Linked DNA regions of Homo sapiens: region 1 is linked to region 2. Evidence: fine-mapped expression QTL. A gene starts in region 2. The other region holds a variant in brackets. All regions are shown on one strand. Distances are from middle to middle.

Evidence for each region. PIP is the estimated chance that this variant, and not a neighbour inherited with it, causes the effect. A credible set is the group of variants that fine-mapping cannot tell apart.
Region 1: its variant is the best candidate, but not a certain one, in a credible set for the expression of ITGAL-AS1 in subcutaneous fat (GTEx, PIP 0.62).

The regions. Positions count from the first base shown.
Region 1 is chr16:29,779,087-29,783,411 of GRCh38, reverse strand. ZG16 (zymogen granule protein 16) reads right to left here. Exons shown (of 4, transcript NM_152338.4): 2 at 4,091-4,152; 3 at 3,775-3,907; 4 at 439-3,308. The coding sequence starts at 4,145. The coding sequence ends at 2,993. It overlaps LOC124903675 (a long non-coding RNA gene), which reads left to right. Exons shown (of 2, transcript XR_007065048.1): 2 at 158-445. Among named protein-coding and RNA genes, the nearest start is that of ZG16, 3.0 kb to the right of the region's middle. The variant G/C (reference allele first, on the strand shown) is at 2,336.
Region 2 is chr16:30,497,316-30,501,708 of GRCh38, reverse strand. ITGAL-AS1 (ITGAL antisense RNA 1) reads left to right here and starts at 2,155. Exons shown (of 2, transcript NR_186415.1): 1 at 2,155-2,345; 2 at 2,558-3,279. ITGAL (integrin subunit alpha L) reads right to left here. Exons shown (of 31, transcript NM_002209.3): 16 at 2,475-2,635; 17 at 2,220-2,371.

The DNA of each region.
Region 1 (4,325 bases), 720 kb after region 2:
ATAGGCTCTCTGCAAGAAGAAAAATATGGCTCTTTTTGCCCGACCCCGCAGGCAGTCAGACCTTATGGTTATCTTCCCTTTTTGTTCCATTTTGTTAGGATATGACATATGTGACTCCATTTTGATACTGATAACATTCTTTTTTTTTTTTTTTTAGATGAAATCTCGCTCTGTCATCCAGGCTGGAGTGCAGTCGCACTATCTCAACTCATTGTAACCTCTGCACTTGTTCCCTAAAATCACTGTTATTCTGTTCTTTTTTAAGGTGCACTGATTTCATATTGTTCAAATGCACATTTACAATCAGATTTCATATTGTTCAAACACACATGTTTTACAATCAATTTGTTAGTTAATGCAATCATCACAGGGTCCTGAGGTGACGTACATTCTCAGCTTATGAAGATAACAGGATTGAGATTAAAATAAAGACAGGCATAAGAAATTATAAGAGTATTATTTGGGAACTGATAAATGTTCATGAAATCTTCACAATTTATGTTTAGTGATTGCAGTAAAGACAGGCATAAGAAAGTATAAAAGTATTAATTTTGGGAACTGGTAAATGTCCATGAAATCTTCACAATTTATGTTCCTCAGCTGTGGCTCCAGCCAGTCCCTCCGTTCGGGGTCCCTGACTTCCCGCAACAGTTGGGCCACCATATCTGTTTATAGAACCAATTGGATGGAGATTTGTGATAAGGGAATCCTTCCTCCTCACCACAGTGCCCCTGCCAAAGAAGAGGCTGGGGCTCTGCAGCTGCTGAAGTCACTGGATAGGCTGGGATAGATAGTCCCAATGCAAGCCAATGGCATTGATTAGGGAATCACTGATGAATCAGAGCATGATGCTGTGTTGCGTTTCAGGTGGGACTTGAACTTTTCAGGACCTGCATACACACTGAGACCTTCAAAGTGGTAACAGGGATGACAGATTTCTTGCCAGTCCCACTGCACATGAAGGCTGGTTGAGCCCTAGAAGATCCTACGGGGAACTTCAACTCCTCATTTTGCCTACAAACAGGTTGCTATGTTGCCCGGGCTGGCCTTAAACTCCTGGGCTCAAGCGACCCTCCTGGGATTACAAGTGTGCTGGGATTACAGGTGTGAGCCCCCTTGCCCAACTACCATATCCTTTTCTTGAGCCAACTGCATGGAGGTTAATGATAGAGAAGTCCTCATTCCCCACCACAGGGCCCCTGCCATAGAGGAGGCTGGGGCTCCGTGGCGGCTGCATTCACTGGGGCAGACATATTGCTAGCCCCGTATTGGCAGTGATGAGGGATCCAGCACTGTAACTGATGAGTTAAAGGACAGCATTTGGGTGCAAGAAGATGGCACTAAAACTGGTGCCTGTGTTTCCCAAGAGGCAGAGCAGCTCTTGTCTGTCACAAAGACCAGCTTCCTCAGGTAGTGTGTGAACCTGCCTGATCTGATGCCCAACATGATGGGTGATCCTTTCACCTGAACTTGGTCCACAGACTGCCTCTCCCTGCCATTGTCTGCTGATTCTCCACCCAGTCCTCCATGGTGTTATCAGGTGCAATGCTTAATTTAGGTGTCAGGTTGGTTCCATTTTGTTAGGATGTGACATATGTTACTCCATTTTGATACTGATAACATTCCTTTTTTTTTTAGATGGAGTCTCACTCTGTCATCCAGGCTGGGGTGCAGTTGTGCTGTCTCAACTCATTGTAACCTCTGCCTCCAGCATTCAAGTGATTCTCATGCCTCAGCCTCCCAAGTAGCTGGGATTACAGGTGACTGCCACCACACCTGGCTAATTTTTGTATTTTTAGTAGAGACAGGGTTTTACCATGTTGGAGGCTTGTCTCCAACTCCTGACCTCAAATGATCTGCCTGCCTTGGCCTCCCAAAGTGCTGGGATTACAGGTGTGAGCACTGTGCCCAGCCAGATATTGATAACTTTTACAAAACTAACGTATACCTTCACTCATTTTAATTTTCTTCCCTTCTTAAAATTTCTTTCCCCAACTACATAACCATCCTCTTCTATCTCTTTTGAGACCTCACCAGTGATCTCTTTTCAGAATCTCCAGCCTCTTTCTCTTTCTTCCTCTTTATCATGTGAACATGCTTGTGACTCTCCTGTCTAGGATTTTAAAAAGACACAAAACCCTTTTTCCTTACACCCCCGAAAACTGACTTGCCTATTTCTGGCAAACCACAGCCAAACTTCTTGAAACACTCGATTCTTGCTGCCTGTGTCTTCTCACCTCCCATTCATTCCTTAATGAGTTCAGCCTAGTGTCAGCCTCCCGCAGTCCACTGTAACCTTCTGATGGCTAAAGCCTAAGAGCATAGTGTGGGCAGG[G/C]TTTCCACTGCTGAGAAGGTGGTGGCTTCCTGAGGAAGGAGGAATCCCAGATCTGAGAGGGCTTAGCAGGACACCGGGGCTCATGGGTAGAGGTGAGGAGGAACTGGGCCTGGTAACAGGGCAGGGTCCTCGGGCACAGACTTCAGCTAAGTTTCAGGAGTCAGGTGGGTTCTGGGAAAGAACAAAGGCTAATGGTCCTGGCCACCCACACACAGCAAGTGAGTTCACCACTTTCTCAAGGGGAGGACCAGGGGTGAGGAGAGCTGGAGAGTGGGACATCTGGGGTTTTGGTGTAAGCCACAACTAGGCCTTGCCCTCAGACCCATGACTCCAGTTTGGATCAATGTTCCAAGGAGCTGTCCTTGAAGAGCGTTGATGCAAGCCAGAATCTCATCTCCTCTTGATAAATTATAGCACAAAGCCCAGGATTCTTACATACCTCTCCCTCATCTTCCCATCTTCCAGACAGATGTCCAAAGCCAGCCAGAAGTGAGATTTGCACGTCCCCGGCTAAGTCAGGAGGCAGATATCCCAGCCACAGATGCCCCCACACAGACTAGCCTTAACCATATTTTTTTTATTGAGCCATTTGGATGGGGGTTAGTGATAAGGGAGTTCTTACTCCTCATCACAGTGCCCCTGCCAAGGAGAGGAGGCTCAGCATCTGCTGCAGCTACTGGGGTAAACATCCCAGTGCAGGCCAATGGCATCGATGAGAGAACCAGACCGGCCACTGATGAAGCGGAGCACGGTGTTGGGGTGCAAGGGGACGGCATTGAAACTTGTGCCACTGTCTTTCCCAAAAGACAGATAGCGGCCCTTGTCTGTCACAAATACCAGCTTCTTCAGGTACCACTTGTACTTCCCAGAAACCTGGATCACTGATTCCCCAGGGTGCAGAAAGATCTCCTCCAGGTCTCCGTTGCGACCACCCACATAGTCGCTCCACACCTTGCCATAGCGCACCTGAAGACTGAGGAAGAGGGGAGGAAGGAAGGAGAAAGAAAGGTGATGATAGGGATGAGAGGTCTCTGGCTAGTCCTACAGACTGTGAAGCCTGGGTGAACCCTGGAAGATCCTACAGGGAACTTCAACTCATTTTGCCAACAAAGAGACTCTGTCACCCAGGCTGGAGTGCAGTGGCATGATCTTGGCTCACTGCAGCCTCAACATCCTGGGCTCAGGCAATCCTCCCGCCTCTCCCTCCTGAGTAGTTGAGGCTACAGGTACTCACCACCATGCCTGGCTAATTTTTTTGTTTTTCTTCGGTAGAGATGGGGTCTTGGTACCTGGAGCATGGTTTAAATCCCTGGCATCCCTGGCATCTTGCCCAGGCTGAGCTAGAACTCCTGGCCTCAAGCGATCTGCCTCTGCCTCCCAAAGCATTGTAATGACAGATGTGAGCCACCGCGCCCAGCCAGGAATTCAAAGAATCTTACCCTACGATGTAGTATGTGTTGACTCGGACCCGGAGGGCGGTGATGGGGCCGTCCAACTGGTTGCCAGAATGAGAGAATCGCTTTCCACCACCACCTCCATACTCTCCACTATAGGAGGAAGACCTGGCCTGAACTGGAGGGGCAAGCAGGAGTTGGAGGGAGAAATCTTCCAGGAGTTCAGTTTCTCTGCATCACCCCTGTTCCTCCGACAACTCAGCTCCCCACCCCAAGCCAACCTCCAAAAGCCTTGGCCAACAGCAGTGCCCAAGGCTGCCTTCCCAAGTCCCCAATACCAGGCTCCTGGTATCTCACTTACTGGCATTGCCAGAGGCTGAGGCACAGAGAAGGGCTAGGAGAGCGACTGTCAACATTCTGGGGCTGGAGTGGGAAGAAAAGAGCAAATGAAGATTCACCTTCTTCCTTGTTGACTTGATTGACCCAGGCACTCCTGACCTGCAGCTCAGACCAAGCCTTCTTCGTCCTTCAACTTAGACCTAGCAGACCCAGTCTTGAGCTTAGAAAGGACTGTCCATAGCCTGTAGTCCTGTTCC
Region 2 (4,393 bases):
CTTAATTTAAAAACTTTAAAAAATCCCTAAGTTTTTCTGGGATGCATGATATGTACCTGGCAAATAACAACATACCATGATGATTGAATATTCTGTAAAAATTAAATATTTTAATTTTTTTTTTTTTTTTTGAGATGGAGTTTCACTCTTGTTGCTCAGGCTGGAGTGCAATGGCACGATCTCGGCTCACTGCAACCTCCATCTCCTGGGTTCAAGTGATTTTCCTGCCGCAGCCTCCCAAGTAGCTGGAATTACAGGCATGGGCCACCACGCCCAGCTAATTTTGTACATTTTTAGTAGAGATGGGGTTTCTCCATGTTGGCCAGGCTGGTCTTGGACTGCCAATCTCAGGTGATCTGCCCACCTCGGCATCCCAAAGTGCTGGGATTACAGGTATGAACCACCGTGCCCAGCCAAACATTTTAATATTTCATAATTAAAAATTATGAAAGCTGTGTAGCAGCATTAATATATAATGTATGAAAAGAGTAGGGAAAAATAGTAACTACATTGCCATTGTAATCATGTTAAAAATGCCCATAAATATATTAAAAAGTAGAAGCTGCTGGGCACGGTGGCTCATGCCCGTAATCCCAGCACTTTTGGAGGCCAAGGTAAGAGGATTACTTGATGCCAAGGGTTTTAGACCAGCCTGGGCAACACAGCAAGACCTTGTCTCTACAAAAACTATTTTTTTTTTTTTTGAGATGGAGTTTCACTCTTGTTGCCCAGGCTGGAGTGCAATGGCACGATCTTGGCTCACTGCAACCTCTGCCTCCTGGGTTCAAGCAATTCTCCTGCCTCAGCCTCCCAAGTAGCTGGGATCACAGGCATGTGCCAACACACGCAGCTAATTTTGTATTTTTAGTAGAGATGGGGTTTCACCATGTTGGCCAGGCTGGTCTCGAACTCCTGACCTCAGGTGATCCACCCACCTTGGCCTCCCAAAGTGCTGAGCCACCGCGCTTGGCCTACAAAAACATTTTTAAAAATTATCCAGATGTGGTGGTGCATGCCTGTAGTCCTAGCTACTCGGGAGGCTGAGGTGGGAGGATCATTTGAGCCCAGAAGTTGGAGGCTACAGTGAGCCATGATTGCATCACTCCACTCCAGCCTGGACGATAGAGCAAGGCCCTGTCTCTAAAAAAATTTTTTTAATAAAAAATTAAAAAAATTAAAAACCTAGAAGCAGCCAGGCACAGTGGTGTGCACTTGTAGTCCCTGCTACTCAGGAAGCTGAGGCAAGAGAACCTCTTGAGGCCAGAAGTTAGAGTCCAGCCTGGGCAACAAAGTAAGACCCCCATCTCTAAAAATATAAAATATGGCCGGGGGCAGTGGCTCATGCCTGCAATCCCAGCACTTTGGGAGGCCGAGGTAGGAGGATCACCTGAGGTCAGGAGTTCGAGACCAGCCTGGCCAACATGGTGAAACCCCAACTCTACTAAAAATATAAAAATTAGTTGGGCATGGTGGCATGCACCTGTAATCCCAGCTACTCGGGAGGCTGAGGCAGGAGAATCGCTTGAACCCGGGAGGCAGAGGCTGTAGTGAGCCGAGATCATGCCACTGCACTCCAGCCTGGGTGATAGAGCGAGACTCTGTCTCAAATAAATAAATAAATAAATAAATAAATAAATAAATAAATAAATAATATAAAATAGGCCAGGAGCGATGGCTCATGCCTGTAATCCCAGCACTTTGGGAGGCCAATGCAGGCAGATCACCAGAGGTCAGGAGTTCGAGACCAGCCTGACTAACATGGTGAAACCCTATCTCTCCCAAAAATACAAAAATTAGCTAGGCATAGTGGCAGGTGCCTGTAATCCCAGGTACTCGGGAGACTGAGGCAGGAGAATTGCTTGAACCCAGGAGGTGGAGGTGGCCATGAGCCGAGATCGTGCTGTAGTAAGTGAGACCGTGCCACTGCACTACAGCCTGGGTGACAGAGCGAGACTCTGTGTCAAAAAAAAAAAAATATATATATATATATATATACATATATATATATACACATATATATACATATATATACACATATATATATAATTTAAAAAAAACACTAGAAGAAAATATGCTAAGGGTGTTATTACTACCATTGCACAGGAGAGGAAGTGACAGCACAGAGGGATGGAAGTGACGTGTCACCCACTGGACAGTGACGGAGCTGAGCCTGCCCCTGCAGGTAGCTCATCCCAGAGCATTGGCGCTGGCTCCCTTACCGGGAAATGAAATGAGAAGTCAGTGCATGACATGCTGGTGGTGACAGCTATATTCCTTCTGAGTTCATGTCTCCCTCCTGGGAACAACCCCCGTCTTCTGGTCCGGTGGCCATCCAGCTGCAGAGTGTAAGTGAGATTGGCAACCAGGCGGCCTGGGCAGGGCGGAAAAGGCAAGAGTTAAATGGTGGGGGATCCCAGGCCATAAGCCTGGATTTGGGGCGGCAGCTGCCCTGGGAGCAGGAGGAGAGCTCTGACCTTGGAACTGGGGGATGAGAGACTTGATCTGGAAACAGATTGTGATATTAACTCCTTCTTTCATCTTGTTACTGGTTGAATAGGAGCACTCCACTTCATGCACTGGGATCTCAGCTGGAGAGAAGGACATCAGGGTGACCATATCCACCACGGGCCGGGAGCTGCAGGGCAGAAGGCAACCAACTCTCTCCCTCCAACCCAACTGCACGTCCCCCCTCAGATGTGGGGCTCCCGCCAGCAAAGCCAGAGAACTCTCCTTCCCTAAAGCAGACCTCAACATGTCACTGTCTCCTCTTAAGGAAAATAATAATGATACTTTTTATTTATTTATTTTGAGAGAGGGTCTCACCCTGTTGCCCAGGCTGGAGTGCAGTGGCATGATAACAGCTCACTACAGCCTCGGCCTCCCAGGCTCTAGTAATCCTCCCACCTCAGCCTCCCAAGGATCTGGGACCACAGGCATGTGCCACCACACCTGGCTAACTTTAAATAAATTTTTGTAGAGAAGGGACCTTCCTATGTTGTCCAGGGTGGTCTTGAACTCCTGAGCTCAAGCAATCCTCCCGGCTTGGGCTCCCAAAGTGCTGGGATTATAGGCATGAGCCACCATGCCTGGCCAATAATGGTGATAACTAATTAGGGCTCCCAGTTCATTCTAGCAGCCTCTGACCCATTTTCCATGAAGAAGAGAAAGCTCTTAGGAAGAGAAATCATACTGAGTTACTTTCATGCTTATGTTTAAGCCTTCAGTGATGCTTGCATGAATTTTATTATGCTTCATAATAAAGTTGCAGCTTTTGTTGTTGTTAGAGCCTCGCTTTGTTGCTCAGGCTGGAGTGCAGTGGTGCAGTCATAGCTCACTGCATCCTCACACTCCTGGCCTCCAGCGATCCTCTTGTCTCAGACTCCTGTGTAGCTGGGATTACGGGAGTGAGCCCCAGTGCCTGGCTCCTATTTTTTTTTTTTTTTTTGAGATCCTCCTCTTGGGCTCAAGCAATTCTCCTGCCTCAGCCTCCCGAGTAGCTGGGATTACAGGCGCATGCCACCATGCCCAGCTAATTTTTGTATTTTTAGTAGAGATGGGGTTTCAACAGGTTGGCCAGGCTGGTCTTGAACTCCTGACTAAGCCCCCCGTGCCTCCCATTGAAGATGTATACAGCCCCCTGCTCCTCCAGAGGGGCCCCCACAACCACGTCCACCTGACCTCAAATGATCCACCCACCTCGGCCTCCCAAAGTGCTGGATTACAGGCATGAGTCATTGCATCCGGCCTATTTATTATTTTTTTGTGGTAGGATCTCACTCTGTAGCTCAGGCTGGAGTACAGTGGCATGATCACAGCTCACTGCAACCTCGACCTCCCAGGCTCAAGTCATCCTCCTGCCTTAGCCTCCCAAGTAGCTGGGCCTACAGTCATGCACCACCATACCTGGCCAATTAAAAAAAAAAAAGAAAAGGGCTGGGCACGGTGGCTCACTCTGTAATCCTAGCACTTTGGGAGGCCGAGACGGGCGGATCCCTTGAGGTCAGGAGTTCAAAACCAGCCTGGCCAACATGGCGAAACCCCGTCTCTACTAAAAATACAAAAAAATTAGCAGGGCATGGTGGTGCATGCCTGTGATCCCAGCTACTTGGGAGGCTGATGCAGGAGAATCGCTTGAACCCAGGAGGTGGAGGTTACAGTGAGCCAAGATCGCACCACTGCACTCTGGCCTGGGCAACAGTGCAAGACTCTCTCTCAAAAGAAAAAAAAAAAGTACAGATGGTGTCCCACTGTGTTGCCCAGGCTGGTCTCAAACTCTTGAGCTCAAGTAATCTTCCTGCCACAGCCTCTCAAAGTGCTGGGATTACCCACATGAGCCACCACACCCTGTTAATCTTTTTTTTTTTTTGAGGCGGAGTCTCACTCTGTCACCCAG